Linked DNA regions of Homo sapiens: regions 1 and 3 are each reported to be linked to region 2. The links are microRNA targets in miRTarBase. Many come from high-throughput screens and were not tested one by one. Region 2 holds a microRNA gene; each other region holds the end of a gene's coding sequence. Distances are between the middles of the regions.
What was found. Region 2 holds the annotated microRNA hsa-miR-6716-5p (UGGGAAUGGGGGUAAGGGCC, at 1,585-1,604, opposite strand). A microRNA usually pairs through its seed, bases 2 to 8, with sites in the 3' UTR of a target mRNA and lowers its output. Matches are read on the target gene's strand: a 7mer-m8 pairs with bases 2 to 8, a 7mer-A1 pairs with bases 2 to 7 and ends in A, and an 8mer does both.

Region 1 (3,000 bases), not on the chromosome of region 2:
TCAAGTGCCACCTAGTTCACCTTCAAGGATTGTGTCTTGGGGAGTATTTGAAAAATACAAGAAAAGGAAAAACTTTTATAGCTTTTTTATTATACATATTTATAAAAAATTAACACTTTTGCCTGCAAAATAGTTTTTACCCAAATCACATTTGAAAGTACTAAAACTAAGGTCAGGTAGCATGAGTAAAACTGGGGCCCTTAACAGGAGCTGGAGCCGCCTCTGCCTGGGGGAATTCTCAGAGAAGGGGAGGTTCTCTGATTTTACCTGGAGCAAGAATGGAGACAGAAGTCAGTAGGCAGGATTTTATTCCTGCTTCAGCCACATGTTTCTGTGTCAGTGAAAATGAAAACTGCCCATTTGATGCCTGCTTAATCACAAAAAAGAGCCATGCACATCCCACTTTGCTCAGGGGAGGACGTTTCCCTAGGCAAGCTGGAAAAATAGTGAAAACTGATTTTTTTTTTTTTGGGGCATATGTTTTTCAGCCAAAACATTTTCCTCATGATAAAATGCAACTTTATATGAAAAGTGAAAAATTCTAAAAAATCACAGGAATGGCCAGGCACATTGGCTCATGCCTGTAATCCCAGCACTTTGGGAGGCCGAGGTGGGTGGATCAGTGGTCAGGAGTTCGAGACCAGCCTGGCCAACATGGTGAAACCCTGTCTCTACTAAAAATACAAAAAAACTAGCTGGGTATGGTGGCGGGCACCTGTAATTCCAGCTACTCAGGAGGCAGAGGTTGCAGTGAGCCAAGATCACGCCACTGCACTTCAGCCTGGTGACGAGCAAAACTCCATCTCAAAAAAAAAAAAAAAAAATCACAGGAACTAACTTTGACCAAATGATTGACAGAAACCAGTGAACATTTTCATAGTGATCAAAGCACCCCAAAGCTGGTCCTTCTAGACTGATACCAGTTGATCTGTTGTTTCGTTTTGGAGATGGGCAGCCTCACTGCTGGCCTCTCAGTGGTTGCTTTTAGGATACAGCTGTCTGCCCTCCGAACTGGTGGCTGGAGTATCCTCCAGCGAACAGAAGGCTGTGGAATTTGTATCATGCTCTGAAAATAGACCTACCCGTAGCTTATGGACATAAAGACTCTATGCAGAAACCTCCTCAACTTTAATTTGTAGTCAGCTATGGCAATGGAACACATTTTTCATAGGGAACTTTGGATGGATTCTCTGGTGCTACAGAAAAAAACAGTAAATGGTCCTTCAAGTGTATCAGTGTAGAACTGAGAGAGAAGAGGTAAAACTGAAAAAGAATAATGAATTTGTTTTAAGATTGAAGACCTTCCTGAAATAATTCAGTTACTTTGGTACTGCCTAGCCCTGTAAGCATTTTGCTTGAAATTTAACCTTTTAAGCACCATATGCTAACCATCACCATGTATCTGGGGGCAAAAAAGAAGCCTTAACTACCATTCCCTCACTCTGTCCCCGTCATGACAACAGGAGCTAAGTCTTGAACTGGGGGTTACACAGCACTCTTAAGTAGGCGTGATAAGTTTTGCAAAATGTTCAGTATCTCCTCAGTGTCTTGTCCTTAGGTAGAGACAGGTCCAGAGCTACAAATGCACCCATGTGGAAGAGATTTGATTCAGCAGAACAGCAATTATGTAGTGCCCTGGGGCGGGAAGTGCTAATAATGTTTCTCAGCTCTTGAAGAAACCCCTGACAGAATTTTAGTTCCACTACAGGTATCAAAAAGATTCCCAGCTCTAAGTCTTGGATATTAATAAGGCTCCACTGAGAGGGAGAAATCCCAGAATCAAGAGAGCGCTCCCTTCCCAGCCCTGCCTCCAAAATGAAGATTGAAGGAAGTTTTTATTCTCTCAATACAAAATTGTTCAGGCACAGTCCTGGTGGTGGTCTGTTTGTAACTTTAGTGTATCTGGGACTGTAAGTAACACCTGTCTACGCTCTTCCCATGACCTATAACTCCCAGAGATCACCTCTTATGGCCGCCTCTATCTTAAAGTTGAGACCCGGGACTTGGAAACCAAAGCCTTGCTGTAGTAAACAAATCAGCAGTCCTTTTAAATGCTGGAGGCACACACAGGTCTGTTTTCCCATGAAGCAGGAGGAAAGAGGAGAAACGAGATTCTAGAAGATGAGCCCAGCATCTACCAAAAAGAGGATACAATGGAAAATCTTACAGAAACAAATGTCTGGGATCCCACTGATGCACAGCCGCCAGACCAGAAGAGGAGGGGGAGAGTGAGTGCTGAAAGCAGAAACGAGGCTCTGCTGAGCAGGCACAGAACATGTGTTTACACGCTGTTGTGGGCCCAGGAGGGAAGAGCGGGCACCTCTGGATACAGTCCACAATGTCACCATGGCCAGTCGCCCCAAGGGTTGAGTTGGGGCACTCCATTGTCCAAGTGCCGACCTACCTGCCAGCCTTCCCTTTCCTCCTCCTCCCAACAAGTACATGGGCCCTTCTGTCCCCAGTGGCCTGCTGCAGTTTACTTCCCATGGGCAGAACTCCGGTGCGTGAGTGCTGATTAAAGCGAAGTTTCATTGGTGTGTGGCCTGGAGTTCTCCTCCTCTAGCAGAGCTATTCTTTGCTTGAGCATCCTCACTTGGGTCTCATGTCTCTCCACCATGGCCATCATCTGCGACTCTAACTTCTTCAGTTTGTTTTGATGCTTTTTCTTTGCTTTCTCATAGGCAGCCACCAGGTTGCTAGGTGGGAATGAAGGGAAATTGGTATTAAGATTCATCCTAAGTAGCATCGTGACACCATCCTGTCCACTGGATAACCAGATCTAGTGAGCACTGCTCTGAAGAAAGATCACTCATCCTCTTCGGTAAGAATCTGAAATCTAGTGGTCAGAGGAGGGACAGCACCAGGATGTCAACACTCAACGGCCAGTCACCTACTGGCTTAACCCTGATGAATCCAGCCGGATTGCTAGAGGCTGGTCACTCTCACATATTAGAAGGGGTTCTAAGAGTCAAACCAGCAATCCAAATTGGCCCAGTCCAA
Region 2 (3,346 bases):
GCCCCCGGTGGAGATGCTGGTCTCCATGCTGTCAGAGCTCTCCAGACTCAGCGTATCATAGGCGTGCTCACCCTCCTCCCCACGCTCCCGCCCCGCAGGCAGGTGGTGTAGGATAGAGTGGTGCATGAGAGGGGGGAAGCCCGAGGGGCCCGCTGGGAAGGGTGCTGCCCCGTGAAGGGCATCCCACTGGCACTGTGCCTCAGCTGCCGCTTTCTGCTTCAGCTCAGCCAGTCGCCGCCGCTGCTCTTCAATCACTTGTTGTCCTGAAGGAGAGACAGATGGGAGTCACAGTGGGCTCCCCACGCAGCTAAGGAGCAGGCCACTGGCAGCACAACACACAGAGGGAGGGGCAAGCAGGGAGAGGTTAACACAGAGCAGCCCCCTCTCCCCGCAGCTTCCCTAAGGCCCCTGCAGCTCCAGGCCTGGCTGCTCTGCCAATGCTTCAGTCGCCTGCACAACCGGCCACAGATGCACAGTCTGGCTTCAGTGCTCTTTCGCACCCTGAGTCCATATAGGACACCAAACCTACCCAAGTAGTGCTGGGGCAGCACGACAGCCAGTTGGCTCCAGCTCACAACCAAGGCCTAAGTAGGTCTAGGCAGGATACATGCACCCACCCTGCCTGCTGGAGAAGGGAGAAGGAAGAGATGGCAGAAACCCCATGAGCACCCAGACTGCCAATGCAGACCCCCCTGCAATGCAGAAGCAAAAGCAACAAACGCAAGAAAGAAGGCAGGGGAGACACGGTAGAGCACAGATGAGGGCAGAAGAGAGGCCAGCTGGAGGGGTGAGGCCAGCAGACACCCCAACCCAGCTCAGCCTGGGACCCTGCCTGCAGGCAGTGGGGACCTGGGCAGGACACATCATGCTGATGCCAGGGCAGGGGCTGCCTGGCCAAAGCAATGCCCTCTATGACCAACGTTCTACCTGCTGGGTCGTCGGTTGGGAGGGGCTCGGCGGGAAGCGACTCGACTGGCGTGGGGGACCCCAGGCAGAGGGTACGGTAGAGACACAGAGGGGGTAAGAGGAGAGAGAGGCACAGACATGGGCTTTCAAAACAACCAAATTGCACACAAGCAACAAGGACTCCTGGGTCCCCAGAGCCAATATCTCAGGCAACCATTTCTAGAAGTCATCAAATCCATCCCCTCCCTCCAGAGAGGGCAATGTCTAACCCGACTCAGGTCAACAAGCAGTTCCCTTATTGGCTAGGCTCTCTAGGAAAGATGTCACAGCCCCCTAAGCCCTTAGTCTCCTGCCCTGAAGGCTTTAGATAAATATCCAGGAAGCTCTTCTTTAGGTACCCACTCTAAATCCTTTCTGGTCTTGCCTAGATCCCAATTAAAGGAAAAACATCCTGTGAAAGGTGTGAGCATAGAGGAGGCATGGCAACTACCCAGGGTCCCCTCAGGAGAGCAGGTGGGCTGGCGGGGCAGTCACTCACCCTTCTGCTGCAGAGCTAGTTGGCGCTTGGTCTCGATGTCCTGCAGTGTGGCTGCCAGGTTGCGAGGAAGGCTGCCCGTGCCATTCTGGGTGAGTAGAGCGCTCTGCAGAGGAATGGAGAGTTCGGACCTGGGCTCAGAAGGCCCTTACCCCCATTCCCAAGGTCTTGGCCTCTCCCCAGGGTGGAAGTCTCCATCCCCAGCCACATGTGCAGCCCCACCCACTGTCCTCAGACCTTTGGGGAGGGGCTACGCCCCAGGGTAGCCACGCTGAGCTGGGAGGAGGAGGAGGAAGAGCCAGAGGAGGAGGGGAGGGGGCCGCTGCGGGTCCGGGGAAGGGGGCTGGTGGCCTCGCCATCCATCTTGGAGCGGTAAACCTGGAAAGAAAAGATAGTGCCCAGTGATTCCTGGCTCCCCCATTGGCCACCTCCCCCATGTCACCTAGTCTGCTGTGATCTGACGTACCGCCCTGGCACTAGGCCTCTGAGGCCTTCTGGCTCTGACAACAAGCCTCCTGAGCCAGCCCAATGGCCAGATGCTATTGGCAGCTGCCAATTCTCCTTTCCAGGCTGTTCCTCCCTGGGCCAATCCCTAGCCCAACCCTGGGTCTAAGAAAAGACCTGTAAACAGACCCATGCAAGGATTTAATGTCAGTCAGGCAGTTGTGCAGGAGACCAACTAGAAGCTGGGTTCCCTCTGGTCCTAGCTCTGCCACTAACAGGCTGTGTGACCTTGGGCCACACACCTCCCTACTCTGGGCCTTGGCTTCCTTATCTGCAAAAGAAGGGGGTAGGACTAGACTAAATAATGGCCAAGCTCCCCTGCAGCACTAGCATGTGGTGAATATGGCCTTTAGTGTCACAAACCCTGACGTGGCATAAGCTCTGCTACTTCCTAGCTGTGTGGCCTTGGAGAGATTACTTATCTTCTCTAGGCCCCAGTGTTTCATCTATAAAATGAGTTAACTTCATCTACCTCAAAGGCCTATGATGATGATCAGAGAATCAAAACACGTTAAAATCTCTAACCAGCTGGGTACACAGTAGAAGTCTTACATGATCAAACTCCTCCCCAAGGAAACATGAAATTTTAGCTGAGGTCACAGTCTTACAGATGCAGTGCCTTCACTCAAGGGGTGATCTTAAATGGTCAATCTTAGGCACTGCAGCTGGTCAGTGGAGGAAACCTGAGGAGAAGACTAGCCCAGCCCCCTTTCCCACCCCATGGTCAGTTGCTTGCTGCAGGTTCAGGTAGGCCCACGCCCTCCATGGCAACTCTGAGGAGGCTTAGGCTGTCACTTCAGAGTCTTTGCCCTTTGTTTTCTGCTTCCAAGTGTCACTGCTGGAGAGACCAGGAGAACAAAATACTGGCAGTTCTTCCCAGGACACACTAGTTCCAGTTGCCACAGGCCCAAGAGCCTGTCAGGCCCCCAGACTGGGTGAGAAGCTCCAGGTGTTGGGGGCTGCCAAGCATAGGCCAGACCCACAGCCTAGCTCAGCACAGGGCACCAAACAGATCCCAAACTGACCACAGCTCCAGAATCCTCTTCCACCAGACACTCAATCAGATAGTTTTAGACTATGGAGGCTGGCCCCCCGGTTGCCCACATGCCAGGATGGCTGCCCAAGGAGTGACCCTCTCAGGGCCCAGAGGTGCCCTCATTGCCCTGACTGGGCTGACGCCTCCACTCAAGGTGGTACTGTGTGGCTGATGGATTGGCAGGAGGTATCAGAGTGGACAGGTGCAAAGGCTGGGGAGGACGGGCAGTGAAGGAGGGGTTACCTGCAGCTGACGGGAAGCTTTGGCGGGCAGAGGCGGGGGAGAAGAGTGAGGGGAGGCTGCAGCGGGGCCAGTCCCCAGCCCGGCCATCAGCTCCTGGTACCACTGCTCTAAGTCTACAGCAG
Region 3 (3,315 bases), 120 kb from region 2:
TCTCCTGCAGAGACATTAGAAACCTCTAGACTAGTGGCCTGTAATCTAGGAAATCCTCGTGGAAGCATCTTGAAAGATAGTACTGGGAGAAATCTGGAAATTTTACTAGAAGAAACTTTCTCAGCCGCTATAGGTAACATCAAGAGAAGATTGGGACATGTTCTTAAAGCTGAGTTTATAAGAAATGACAAGTTCTTCTCCCTTCTTCTGCATGTGCAGGGCATTGGTTGCTATATGTTCCGAATTGATGACTCAGAGGTAGTGGATGCCACCATGCATGGAAATGCTGCACGCTTCATCAATCACTCGTGTGAGCCTAACTGCTATTCTCGGGTCATCAATATTGATGGGCAGAAGCACATTGTCATCTTTGCCATGCGTAAGATCTACCGAGGAGAGGAACTCACTTACGACTATAAGTTCCCCATTGAGGATGCCAGCAACAAGCTGCCCTGCAACTGTGGCGCCAAGAAATGCCGGAAGTTCCTAAACTAAAGCTGCTCTTCTCCCCCAGTGTTGGAGTGCAAGGAGGCGGGGCCATCCAAAGCAACGCTGAAGGCCTTTTCCAGCAGCTGGGAGCTCCCGGATTGCGTGGCACAGCTGAGGGGCCTCTGTGATGGCTGAGCTCTCTTATGTCCTATACTCACATCAGACATGTGATCATAGTCCCAGAGACAGAGTTGAGGTCTCGAAGAAAAGATCCATGATCGGCTTTCTCCTGGGGCCCCTCCAATTGTTTACTGTTAGAAAGTGGGAATGGGGTCCCTAGCAGACTTGCCTGGAAGGAGCCTATTATAGAGGGTTGGTTATGTTGGGAGATTGGGCCTGAATTTCTCCACAGAAATAAGTTGCCATCCTCAGGTTGGCCCTTTCCCAAGCACTGTAAGTGAGTGGGTCAGGCAAAGCCCCAAATGGAGGGTTGGTTAGATTCCTGACAGTTTGCCAGCCAGGCCCCACCTACAGCGTCTGTCGAACAAACAGAGGTCTGGTGGTTTTCCCTACTATCCTCCCACTCGAGAGTTCACTTCTGGTTGGGAGACAGGATTCCTAGCACCTCCGGTGTCAAAAGGCTGTCATGGGGTTGTGCCAATTAATTACCAAACATTGAGCCTGCAGGCTTTGAGTGGGAGTGTTGCCCCCAGGAGCCTTATCTCAGCCAATTACCTTTCTTGACAGTAGGAGCGGCTTCCCTCTCCCATTCCCTCTTCACTCCCTTTTCTTCCTTTCCCCTGTCTTCATGCCACTGCTTTCCCATGCTTCTTTCGGGTTGTAGGGGAGACTGACTGCCTGCTCAAGGACACTCCCTGCTGGGCATAGGATGTGCCTGCAAAAAGTTCCCTGAGCCTGTAAGCACTCCAGGTGGGGAAGTGGACAGGAGCCATTGGTCATAACCAGACAGAATTTGGAAACATTTTCATAAAGCTCCATGGAGAGTTTTAAAGAAACATATGTAGCATGATTTTGTAGGAGAGGAAAAAGATTATTTAAATAGGATTTAAATCATGCAACAACGAGAGTATCACAGCCAGGATGACCCTTGGGTCCCATTCCTAAGACATGGTTACTTTATTTTCCCCTTGTTAAGACATAGGAAGACTTAATTTTTAAACGGTCAGTGTCCAGTTGAAGGCAGAACACTAATCAGATTTCAAGGCCCACAACTTGGGGACTAGACCACCTTATGTTGAGGGAACTCTGCCACCTGCGTGCAACCCACAGCTAAAGTAAATTCAATGACACTACTGCCCTGATTACTCCTTAGGATGTGGTCAAAACAGCATCAAATGTTTCTTCTCTTCCTTTCCCCAAGACAGAGTCCTGAACCTGTTAAATTAAGTCATTGGATTTTACTCTGTTCTGTTTACAGTTTACTATTTAAGGTTTTATAAATGTAAATATATTTTGTATATTTTTCTATGAGAAGCACTTCATAGGGAGAAGCACTTATGACAAGGCTATTTTTTAAACCGCGGTATTATCCTAATTTAAAAGAAGATCGGTTTTTAATAATTTTTTATTTTCATAGGATGAAGTTAGAGAAAATATTCAGCTGTACACACAAAGTCTGGTTTTTCCTGCCCAACTTCCCCCTGGAAGGTGTACTTTTTGTTGTTTAATGTGTAGCTTGTTTGTGCCCTGTTGACATAAATGTTTCCTGGGTTTGCTCTTTGACAATAAATGGAGAAGGAAGGTCACCCAACTCCATTGGGCCACTCCCCTCCTTCCCCTATTGAAGCTCCTCAAAAGGCTACAGTAATATCTTGATACAACAGATTCTCTTCTTTCCCGCCTCTCTCCTTTCCGGCGCAACTTCCAGAGTGGTGGGAGACGGCAATCTTTACATTTCCCTCATCTTTCTTACTTCAGAGTTAGCAAACAACAAGTTGAATGGCAACTTGACATTTTTGCATCACCATCTGCCTCATAGGCCACTCTTTCCTTTCCCTCTGCCCACCAAGTCCTCATATCTGCAGAGAACCCATTGATCACCTTGTGCCCTCTTTTGGGGCAGCCTGTTGAAACTGAAGCACAGTCTGACCACTCACGATAAAGCAGATTTTTCTCTGCCTCTGCCACAAGGTTTCAGAGTAGTGTAGTCCAAGTAGAGGGTGGGGCACCCTTTTCTCGCCGCAAGAAGCCCATTCCTATGGAAGTCTAGCAAAGCAATACGACTCAGCCCAGCACTCTCTGCCCCAGGACTCATGGCTCTGCTGTGCCTTCCATCCTGGGCTCCCTTCTCTCCTGTGACCTTAAGAACTTTGTCTGGTGGCTTTGCTGGAACATTGTCACTGTTTTCACTGTCATGCAGGGAGCCCAGCACTGTGGCCAGGATGGCAGAGACTTCCTTGTCATCATGGAGAAGTGCCAGCAGGGGACTGGGAAAAGCACTCTACCCAGACCTCACCTCCCTTCCTCCTTTTGCCCATGAACAAGATGCAGTGGCCCTAGGGGTTCCACTAGTGTCTGCTTTCCTTTATTATTGCACTGTGTGAGGTTTTTTTGTAAATCCTTGTATTCCTATTTTTTTTAAAGAAAAAAAAAAAACCTTAAGCTGCATTTGTTACTGAAATGATTAATGCACTGATGGGTCCTGAATTCACCTTGAGAAAGACCCAAAGGCCAGTCAGGGGGTGGGGGGAACTCAGCTAAATAGACCTAGTTACTGCCCTGCTAGGCCATGCTGTACTGTGAGCCCCTCCTCACTCTCTACCAACCCTAAACCCTGAGGACAGGGGAGGAACCCACAGCTTCCTTCTCCTGCCAGCTGCAGATGGTTTGCCTTGCCTTTCCACCCCCTAATTGTCAACCACAAAA

Region 1: the mRNA of MCC is a reported target of hsa-miR-6716-5p. The part of its 3' UTR that is shown has no 7-base or 8-base seed match.
Region 3: miRTarBase lists KMT2A as a target of hsa-miR-6716-5p. Seed matches in the 3' UTR shown: 7mer-m8 at 1,197-1,203.

Annotation. Positions count from the first base shown.
Region 1 is chr5:113,024,787-113,027,786 of GRCh38, forward strand. MCC (MCC regulator of Wnt signaling pathway) reads right to left here. Exons shown (of 19, transcript NM_001085377.2): 19 at 1-2,696. The coding sequence ends at 2,516. Among named protein-coding and RNA genes, the nearest start is that of DCP2, 49 kb to the left of the region's middle.
Region 2 is chr11:118,642,273-118,645,618 of GRCh38, reverse strand. It overlaps MIR6716 (microRNA 6716), which reads right to left and starts at 1,619; the gene lies at 1,540-1,619. It overlaps PHLDB1 (pleckstrin homology like domain family B member 1), which reads right to left. Exons shown (of 23, transcript NM_001144758.3): 13 at 3,225-3,346; 14 at 1,679-1,819; 15 at 1,445-1,547; 16 at 1-263. RefSeq lists an enhancer at 1,145-1,644.
Region 3 is chr11:118,521,678-118,524,992 of GRCh38, forward strand. It overlaps KMT2A (lysine methyltransferase 2A), which reads left to right. Exons shown (of 36, transcript NM_001197104.2): 36 at 220-3,315. The coding sequence ends at 495. All of the region lies in intron 1 of TTC36-AS1 (TTC36 and KMT2A antisense RNA 1), which reads right to left. Among named protein-coding and RNA genes, the nearest start is that of TTC36, 4.1 kb to the right of the region's middle.